Regions from separate parts of the Homo sapiens genome. Here region 2 is linked to region 1. The links come from fine-mapping of genetic effects on gene expression. A gene starts in region 1. The other region holds a variant in brackets. All regions are shown on one strand. Distances are from middle to middle.

The links. PIP is the estimated chance that this variant, and not a neighbour inherited with it, causes the effect. A credible set is the group of variants that fine-mapping cannot tell apart.
Region 2: its variant is the best candidate, but not a certain one, in a credible set for the expression of TMEM171 in whole blood (INTERVAL, PIP 0.81).

Annotation. Positions count from the first base shown.
Region 1 is chr5:73,118,679-73,122,937 of GRCh38, reverse strand. TMEM171 (transmembrane protein 171) reads right to left here and starts at 2,363. Exons shown (of 4, transcript NM_173490.8): 1 at 2,242-2,363. LOC124901001 reads left to right here and starts at 2,447. Exons shown (of 2, transcript XM_047417978.1): 1 at 2,447-4,259. The coding sequence starts at 2,509. The coding sequence ends at 3,210. RefSeq lists an enhancer at 2,973-3,524.
Region 2 is chr5:73,157,523-73,162,039 of GRCh38, reverse strand. No RefSeq gene overlaps it. Among named protein-coding and RNA genes, the nearest start is that of TMEM174, 13 kb to the left of the region's middle. The variant G/C (reference allele first, on the strand shown) is at 2,703.

The DNA of each region.
Region 1 (4,259 bases):
TTCTGATTGCAAATGCCCCACTTTTCATCATAGCTGCTCTCAGCATTTTCAAGTCAGTTCAGTAACTAACTTTCCATTTCCTGTTTTAGACTACAGCAGCTTTCCATTTCATGTTTTATTCTAAGGCTACATCTACAAAAGACCCAATTTCAGCAATTTCAATAGAATAAGAAGTCTGTTCAGGAACACAGTGGGTTTGGTGGACTTTTAAGTTGATTCTATCAAAATGTGGTTCTTGAGGCCAGGCGTGGTGGCTTGCGCCTGTAATCCCAGCACTTTGGGAGGCAGAGGCAGGCAGATTGCTTGAGCTCAGGAGTTCGAGACCAGCCTGGGTGACATAGCAAAACCCCATCTCTGCTAAAAATACAAACTTTAGCCAGGCATGGTGCCTGTGGTCCCAGCTACTTGGTAGGCTGAGGTGGGAGGATTGCTTGAGCCCAGGAGCTGGAGGTTGCAGTGAGCCAAGATCACGCCACTACTCTCCAGCCTGGGCAACAGAGTGAGACCCTGCCAAAAACAAAACAAAACAAAACAAAATGGTTCTTGGGTTCTCAACAAGCACAGACTGGTGACCCAGTTGCTTGGATCTGGGATGACCCTGGAAAGTGTTGCACAGCAGGTCAACAGGAGCTCAATTTTCAGAGTGGACAGGTACCCAAAGGCTGGTGTGGCCTCTCACTCACCCTCCTCCATGGTGTCACCTACTTCCACAAAGAGGTTGAGACTCAGTTAAAAAACAAGCAGCCAATAAAACTGCTAGTTATAAAGCACAAAATGGGTGGAAGGGGGGAACTTGGCTTTGAAAGAATAGTATAAGTGGAATCAAGTGAGAAAGCACCTTCCAGAAAATCACCCAAGCCCTGTACTTCAGGGGTATAATATATTAAATATGCCAAGTGGTTGTTAAAGAGTTGTCTAGCTTACACAGAGCTGACCTAATTATCTCGTTATCTTATTTTACTCCAATGAATGGGATATTTTACCAGGACCCCGTAAGTCAGGTCCTGCAATTGCAAAGACAATCCAAAATCGTGAAGACTATTTTCACCTGCCCAAGGAAAGAAAACTTTTAAAATATTTTGTGCCGCTCACATCCATGGTCCCATGAAGGAACTCAAGACTGAGGCCCTAAGCCCAAGATGATCTTGACAAACCAAAATCACACTGAGGGAAGGTCAGTTTAGGTAAAGAAAGCAAACAGGCAATCTTACACTGGGAAAAACTTTTCCAGGAAAAAGTATGATAGAATCAGAAGGAAGTTGGAGAAAAAAAGGAAATATAGGAGGGAAAAAAGCTTTCATTTCAAACTTGGAAAAACTTGATATACAGATGCAGTTAAGCTGAGACAAAGCATTGCACTAATTTTTTAATCTTCCCATTTTTTATTAAGTCAGTAACATCCTGCAGTGAATAAGAATTTCATATTGAGTATACAGTAGTCCTCATTTATCCTACAGGGAGTACATTCCAAAACTCTCAGTGGAATGAAACGATGGAGAGTCCTGAAACCTATATATATTGGTTTTTTGTTATTGTTGTTGTTTTAATTTTTTTCCTGAATCATGCAATCTCTTTTGCGGTTTCGGAGACAAGAAAGAGAAGGGTGATTCTCGGCTGCAAAGTCCTATCAGGAATTCATTTATTCCCAGTATAGTCAACTTTGCAGTGAGTCACAAGGCTTCAACTGTCTTAAGGCAAATTCCCAAACACCAGTAAATAGAAGCCCAAAACTGAATCTGTAGTTTCTTGTCCGTGGACTAGTGGACGGAGCACCTGGCTGAGTGTTCACCTCTGATCCATAATAGTGTGGAAATACTCTCTCTCTCTCCTTCTCCCACAGATGCACTCACAAACGGATACAAAGACACCCACATTCACTCGCAATGAAACCTTTTCCAAACACCACCCTACACTTAAACTCCCCAAAGCCAAACTCCCCTCTCCAACACTCCTATTGGTTTTCCAAAAGACATTTCCAAAATTCACAGCACCTCTCCACGTCCAAAGCTATGGTGCGTTTGGGGAACGAAACGAGAGGCAAATGCCTTCTGTGCGAAATCGGTTTGCGGCTTTTAGGGAGCCCGAGCGCAAGCAACAGCCGGAGGGGCTCGCAGGGACGCAGGTTGGGCTCGGATACCCAGCGCCTCCGCGCTGCCGCGGCTCCCCGCGCCCAGCCTGGCCGCACAGCTCAGCGCCCGACCCGCCGCCGCCGGCGCAGGCGCGCGGGCCGGGGCAGCTTACCTGAAGCTGGGTCCGGCGCCTGGCTGACCGCGCTGCTGTGGGCACTGGCTGGGCGCGGCGTCCGCCTCCGCACGCGGCCTCGGCTGCGCCGGCCGCCCTGCACCCTACCCACCGCGCGTCCTGGTGCGGAGGGCGGACCCGGCAGTATTTAGAGAAGGAGGCGGTGCTGCGCGGGCGCGGCGGCCCGGGGAGGGCAGGGCAGGGCAGTGCAGGAGCGACCGGTGGGAGCTGGCCGCCACTGGGGGCCCGGGGCGCGCCCGCGAGGGAATGGAGAGCCAGGGGCGGCTTCGGAACCCAGGGCTGGCGGGTTTGGCAGCCTCCGCGCTCGTGGCCGTGCGCGCGAGGAATCTGGGAGAAATGGGCACCTTCCACGGCTGCCTGGCCCGCACACCTGGCGGGGCCGGCGAGTTGAGATGCCCCCGCCGGCTGGCGGAACTGTGCGCCCCGCCCGCCGAGGCCCGCTCCCCCTCGAGGCCTGAGGCCCAGTTCTATAGGGGCGCGAGAGAGCGGCGGCGTGGGGGGCGCGGAGGAAGCGCCGGCCCCCGCCTCCACCGCCTCCTTCGTGGTTGCGGCCCAGGCCGAACAGGGTACCGTGCCCCGGCCGCCTTGGCCTTGGCCACCGCGAGGTCCGGGGCGACTACACCCAGCAGCCCTGTGGCCCTCCTACTGCTCTGGAGACCTGGAGTGGGGTTACAGAGGGAAGCGACTCGCTGCGAGCTCCCCATCGAATATGGAGCCACCAGGTCACGGGACGACGTGCGCTCTACAGAATGTGAGACAAGGGCCCTCCACACCCAGCCATTCAGGCCTGAGGTCCTGGCTCCGAGACTGAGGCCGAGACGCGGCAAGCCCCGCGCCGGACCAGCTCTGCCCCTCCCGCACCCACGTGTCTGCGCACAGCCCTCCTTTGCGATAGAACCCCCTTCCTGGTTCTCCACCACTAATGATCTGCCGGAATTAAACTGGTAACTTTCCCTGCCCTTGAACCGGGAGTTTCGGGATGAGTTTGCCAATCCCTGTGCTATTTGTAACCAGCCCCGTGACACGTGATACGGATCCAACTGTGCTAGTTTCCACACCAGGGGTCAGGGCACGGTGGAAGGTGAGTCAAGGGTTCTCTGCCCAAGCGCAGAGGTGCCCTGAGCCACGGGGACTTCCCAGCCCTGCCTTCTCTTCTCAGCTTCCTGTCTGCCTTGCCTGAAACCCTATCTAGAGTTAAGGCCAATGGATGAAACTTTTCAATGTGCAAGCAAGCACTTTACCTACCTGATACAACAAGAGATTCCTGGTCATGCTCACTGAAGGTAAAGTATGAAGCAGGCTTAGCTAATCATCAGAGGTGAGAAGAGACTTAAAGAACCAGTCAGAGAGGTAAAGAGGGGAGGGGGTTACCTGGGCTTTAGGGTTCACCAGGGAGGCAGAACGGACAAGTTCTTGCCATTGGAATTTGGTGGGGCACTTGCCTGGGTGGCCAAAGGTGGACTTTTTCATAGCCAGGGTGCCCGACCTCTGTAAATCCCCGCCATAACTAACAGCCCTGATTACTGTCGAAATGAACAATGCCAACACTCACGACCCCTTGCTTTGTGGTTCTTTGCTACATCTCTCCAGCAGTTCAGAAAAGGTTGGAGGCAGCAGGGGACAGGAGACTGAGAAAAACAGTCATTTGTCAGTTGAGGAAACTGAGGTCCAGGCTGACAGAGGTAAAGTAACCTCTGCAGCTGGTTGACATGCAGAGAAGGCCTGAGCCAGATGCAGATGCGCTGACCATTCAGTGTTTCTCCCGCAGCACACCTGTCACTCAGAGAACACACCATGCTGTGAACCCAGAAAACGCCCTCATGGCCTTGTGATGCCAAGCACGTTTAGATTATTATAACAATACAGGCACTGTGTCCCAAGGACATTGCAGTAATCTATGTTTGGGGTGGAGATATCCTTCCTGGTCCAAGTGTCAAGGTATACCACCTTCTGGAAGGGCACCAAAGCATGTCCAGCGAATGGGCAGATACCCAAGA
Region 2 (4,517 bases), 39 kb before region 1:
TTCAACTCACCTTTTTACCTAGTAGCTCATGTCATCTTTCCCAAATTCATACAATTTTAGTTTTTAATATTTTGACAAGAATGAGTGATTCAATTATAGCTGGAAGTTTCTCAAACAAGCAATACAAAGATATCAAATAGATATCAAAGTTTAAGCTCATTTTCTTCTCCACAATAAAATCCATAATTTGAATAAGAATCTAGGGTAAACCATTTTTAAAACTTTATGAATGCATTGTTTTGGCAAGTCACTGGGAAAACAGCTTTAAATCTGAGTGGGGAAGAGTATAACTTGACACAACCTCTTTTTGGGGGGCTTGGCAATATTTACTAAAATTCAAAATGTACGTACAACAGAATTAAAGAAGCTACAAACATCTTCTAGGAATGTAACCTACATACTTACAATAGACACCTTACAAAAGGATACTTTAGCAGAATAGACAATGAATCACTATCTGTACTAACAAAGTACAGGGATGGGGAACCCTACATGTCCATCAGTAGTGGACTGGCTAAATAACTTATGGTGGTAAAATATAAGGTTCTCTTCCACTGTTAAAGAGCAAGTCAGCTGTACATACACAGGTATGGAATAATCTCTAAGATGTGTTATTGGTTGAAAAAGAAAGCAGAGTGAGTACTGTAGTGTGCTTATTATGCCATTATTTGCAAGGGGAAAGACATACACATCATTGAATGTCTGTGCATAAAATGTCATTGAAAGAATATGAAATAAATTTGACAGAAGAACTGAGAGGGTGTTCCAGTTATCTATTGCTATATAACAATCCACTCCCAATTTTGTGGCTTAAAACAGTTATGTGGCTTGGCTGAGTTTTGTCAGGCAGTCAGCAAGGGCTGCCAGAACCTAGAAGCTCACCTGAGTGGGACATCAAGATGGTTCACTCATGTGACTGACAGCTGATGCTAGGAGCTTCGCTGGCTCATCAACCAGAGCACTCACCTGTGTCTTTCCATGTGGTTTCTCCCGGCCAGGGGACTGGGTTTCAAGAGGAAGTGTCTTAGGAGCAAGTACTCCTGGGGTCCCAGGTGGAAGCTGTGAGGCGTCTTATGACCTGGCTTTGGCAGTCCCAGAATATCACTCTCATTTCATTCTATTGCTCAAGCAAGTCACTAAACCAACCCAGATACAAAGGGAAGGGAATTCGATTCTTCCTTTCTATAGTTGGAATGTCAAGGTCACATTGCAGAAGAACACTTGGGAGAGGAAATATTACCATCTTTCTCTTTGGAAAATACAATCTTCTGCAGAGGGAGATTTACTTTTCACTGTTCAGTCTGTGATACTGCTTGAATTTTCGTCCATGTGAACATCCAAATATAGTCCAAGATTTTAGATCAACCATGTTTATATACCCATTCACTTGTGGCTGGTTAGTAACCTCATCCTTCTTTACTGGCAAGTTTTCAGTGAGTCCTCAGGTGGTAACACTCTGTCACAATCAACAATAATGGCAGGTTCTGAATTTTTCTGAGTTTCTTACATATTTTCACTGCTTTTCAGACTTAGACATCAAGCTTCCTGTTTTTAACCACCAATCCACATTCCCCGTTAAAAATTGTAATTTTGAAATGATTATAGTTTAAAAAGATGAATAATGAATGACAGTATAACCACAAAAACAGAGTTTTCAGAGGTTATCAGAGACCTGCGGTGGGAAGTGAAACTAAGCGTGGTCATATAGTTCTGAACAAATCGTTTGATTGAACACATTGTGGTTGGAAGTAAATTGCTTTGTGGAAGCTGTGTGTGTGTGATTAAATGTCTTTTTTCAAAAGTTTGGTAGAGTGGCAAACCCATGTTTCAAAGATCTGTCTGCTTGTGCTGTGATCCTGCAGGGTAATCTATTGGCCATATTCACTTGGATCAGACTACAGACAGAACACTACCAGGTTCTCTGATAACAAAAAAGCCCCAAAATATTTCAACAACTTATAGCACATAAAAAGCAAAATAAAACAAAACAAAGCCACAAGCTTGGGTGACATGGAAAAACAGGAACCTGCATGTTTTACTTGCAAATACATGTCTCAAAACCCTTCAAGATTTCCAAAATTCAAAAGAATGTCTTCCTAAACATTTAGGTAAAAATGGCACCATGTGGCCTCCCCTACGCTGGTGCACCACAGGAGGTGGGGGTTCAGGAAAGAGGGGTTGGGGAGAAAAGAGAGAAGCCACAAGAAGGGACCTGGACATTCTTCTCTGCACTGTAGGACCCTGTCAGTGGCCACCACTACCTGGCAATCCTGAGATGATCAACAAAATCAGAAAAGGTCCGGATGACAAAATCAGACTCCAGAGGAAGGTGGTTCATGGGTCCACGTGGATGTGAGAGGAACACAGGGTCAGGATGCATAGTCTGCTGGGAAGCCTTCTGAGAAACCCAGGTGCTAGACCTGTCCTGGTGTCCAGCACAAGGCGGGAACATCCTCCATGATATTCCTCCAGTCTTTAGGGCTAGATCAGTGAAAGTAGGCAGATGTCATGGCAAGGGGTGACTACGGTCAGAAATGCACACCCTGCGCAGCTCTGTACCTTCAGAGGGCCACAGTTGCAGACCTGCAGGGAGTAGCAACGAGGATGGGGTGACCTATGCCACTTGGCCCCACCCCCTCAAGGACATGCGGCAAGAGGATCCTTGCACAGTAAGGACCTGGATGGAGCAGACGCGGAACCTC[G/C]ACCCTAAGAATAGATTCTCTACTTAAATGAGCATCAGGTGTCTATAAGTCATTTAGGGGGAATATTTGGGGGAAATCTCAATTATAGGAATTATCTACTCACCTGTTATATTTACTTGAATTGTGTTGGACCATGGCAGCCTCAAGGTTATATTCAACTTTTACAATAAAATGACAGGGTGGTTGAATCATGACTATACTATTATTAGCTACAGGATGGATCTTGTTGAAAATCAAAACTGTCCCCTCATTCTTCAGATTTTATTTTATTTCAAGAATAACAAGAGCCTGGGGGTGGTGGTTCACACCTGTGATCCCAATAATTTGGGAGGCTGAAGCAAGTGGATCGCTTGAGCCCAGGAGTTCAAGACCAGCCTGAGGACATGGCAAAACCCCACCTCTACAAAAAAAAATATATAAAAATTAGCCAGGCATGGTGGTGCAGCCTGTAGTCTCAGCTACTTGAGAGGTAAGGTGGAGAATCACTTGAGCCTGAGAGATCGAGGTGTCAATGAGCTATGATCATGCCACCACCCTCCAGCCTGGGTGACAGAGTGAGACCCTATCTCAAAAAAACAAAACAAAACAGTAACAAGAATATTGTAGGTGGCGGTGGCGATCATTGCTGTATGGAGTATGGATTCTGTGTCTTTACACCGTATTCTTGCTTGAACTTTCTGATATCCTGGTGAGAAGCAAGGCCTCTGTTTTACAGATGATTAATCTCAGAACAGGAAAGTAGGCTATTTGATTTAGTGGTAGTGCAGGAGGACAATCTGTTTTCCTAAAGTGTTTTTAAAATTGCTCATCCATGAAGGGCAGGCACTGGCAGGCAAGTGATCTGCCTGTGTTCTCGAGCGAGGCTGGTGTCTGCTGAGGTTGGTTGGGTAGGCAGTTTCCTGGGTGTCCTGATAATCTTTAGATTTTTTTCCCCAGCTGCGATGATTTGAATGTTTGTCTCCTCCAAAACTCATGTTGAGCTTTGATCCCTACTGTTGGAAATTGGCCTGATGGGAAGTGTTTGGGTCATGAGGGGATCCCTGATGAATAGAATAATGCCCTTTTTTGGGGGTGACTTCTCACCCTATTAGTTCCCTGTAAAGCTGGTTGTTAAAAGAGCCTGGTGCCTCCCCACTGTTTTTCTTGCTTCCCCTCCTGCCATGTGATCTCTGCACACATGAGCTCCCCGTCTTCCATCATGAGTGAGAGCAGCCTGAGGCCCTCACCAGAGGCAGATGCCCAGTCATCAAAATTATAAGCCAAATAAACTTCTCTTTATAAATGACTCAGCCTCATGTATTCCTTTATAGCAGCAGAAAATGCACTCAGACACCAACTGAACTGAAAACTACCTTGATGGGGCTGGAATTTAAGTCACAGCCACTGCCATTTCCAGCAAATGATAAGGTGAGCCTCCCAGAGGCCCAGCTCTTGGTGTGAGAAGCTTCTGGATGGAGTAGGTCTGCAGTGGGCTTGCTTCTGAGCTCAGGAATTTATGTACTTGTATGTTAGTTTCCACTTCAGAATAACCACACACTTAGAGGCTTAAAACTACATTCATTTATTCGTTCACGGTTCTGTAGGTCAGGCATCCCTCTGTATTATCTGGAGGCTCAGGAAATAATCTGTTCCCAAGCTCATTCAGGCTGTTGGCCGAATTTGGTCCTAAGCAACATAAGACTGAGGTTCCAATTCCCTGCCAGAAATTCCTTTCTGCTCCTAGAAGCCCCCCACATTCCTTCTCACTTGGGCCGCTCCATCTTCAAAACAGCAATAGTGCTGCAAGACTAGCCAAGCTCTTGAGCTTCAAGTCTC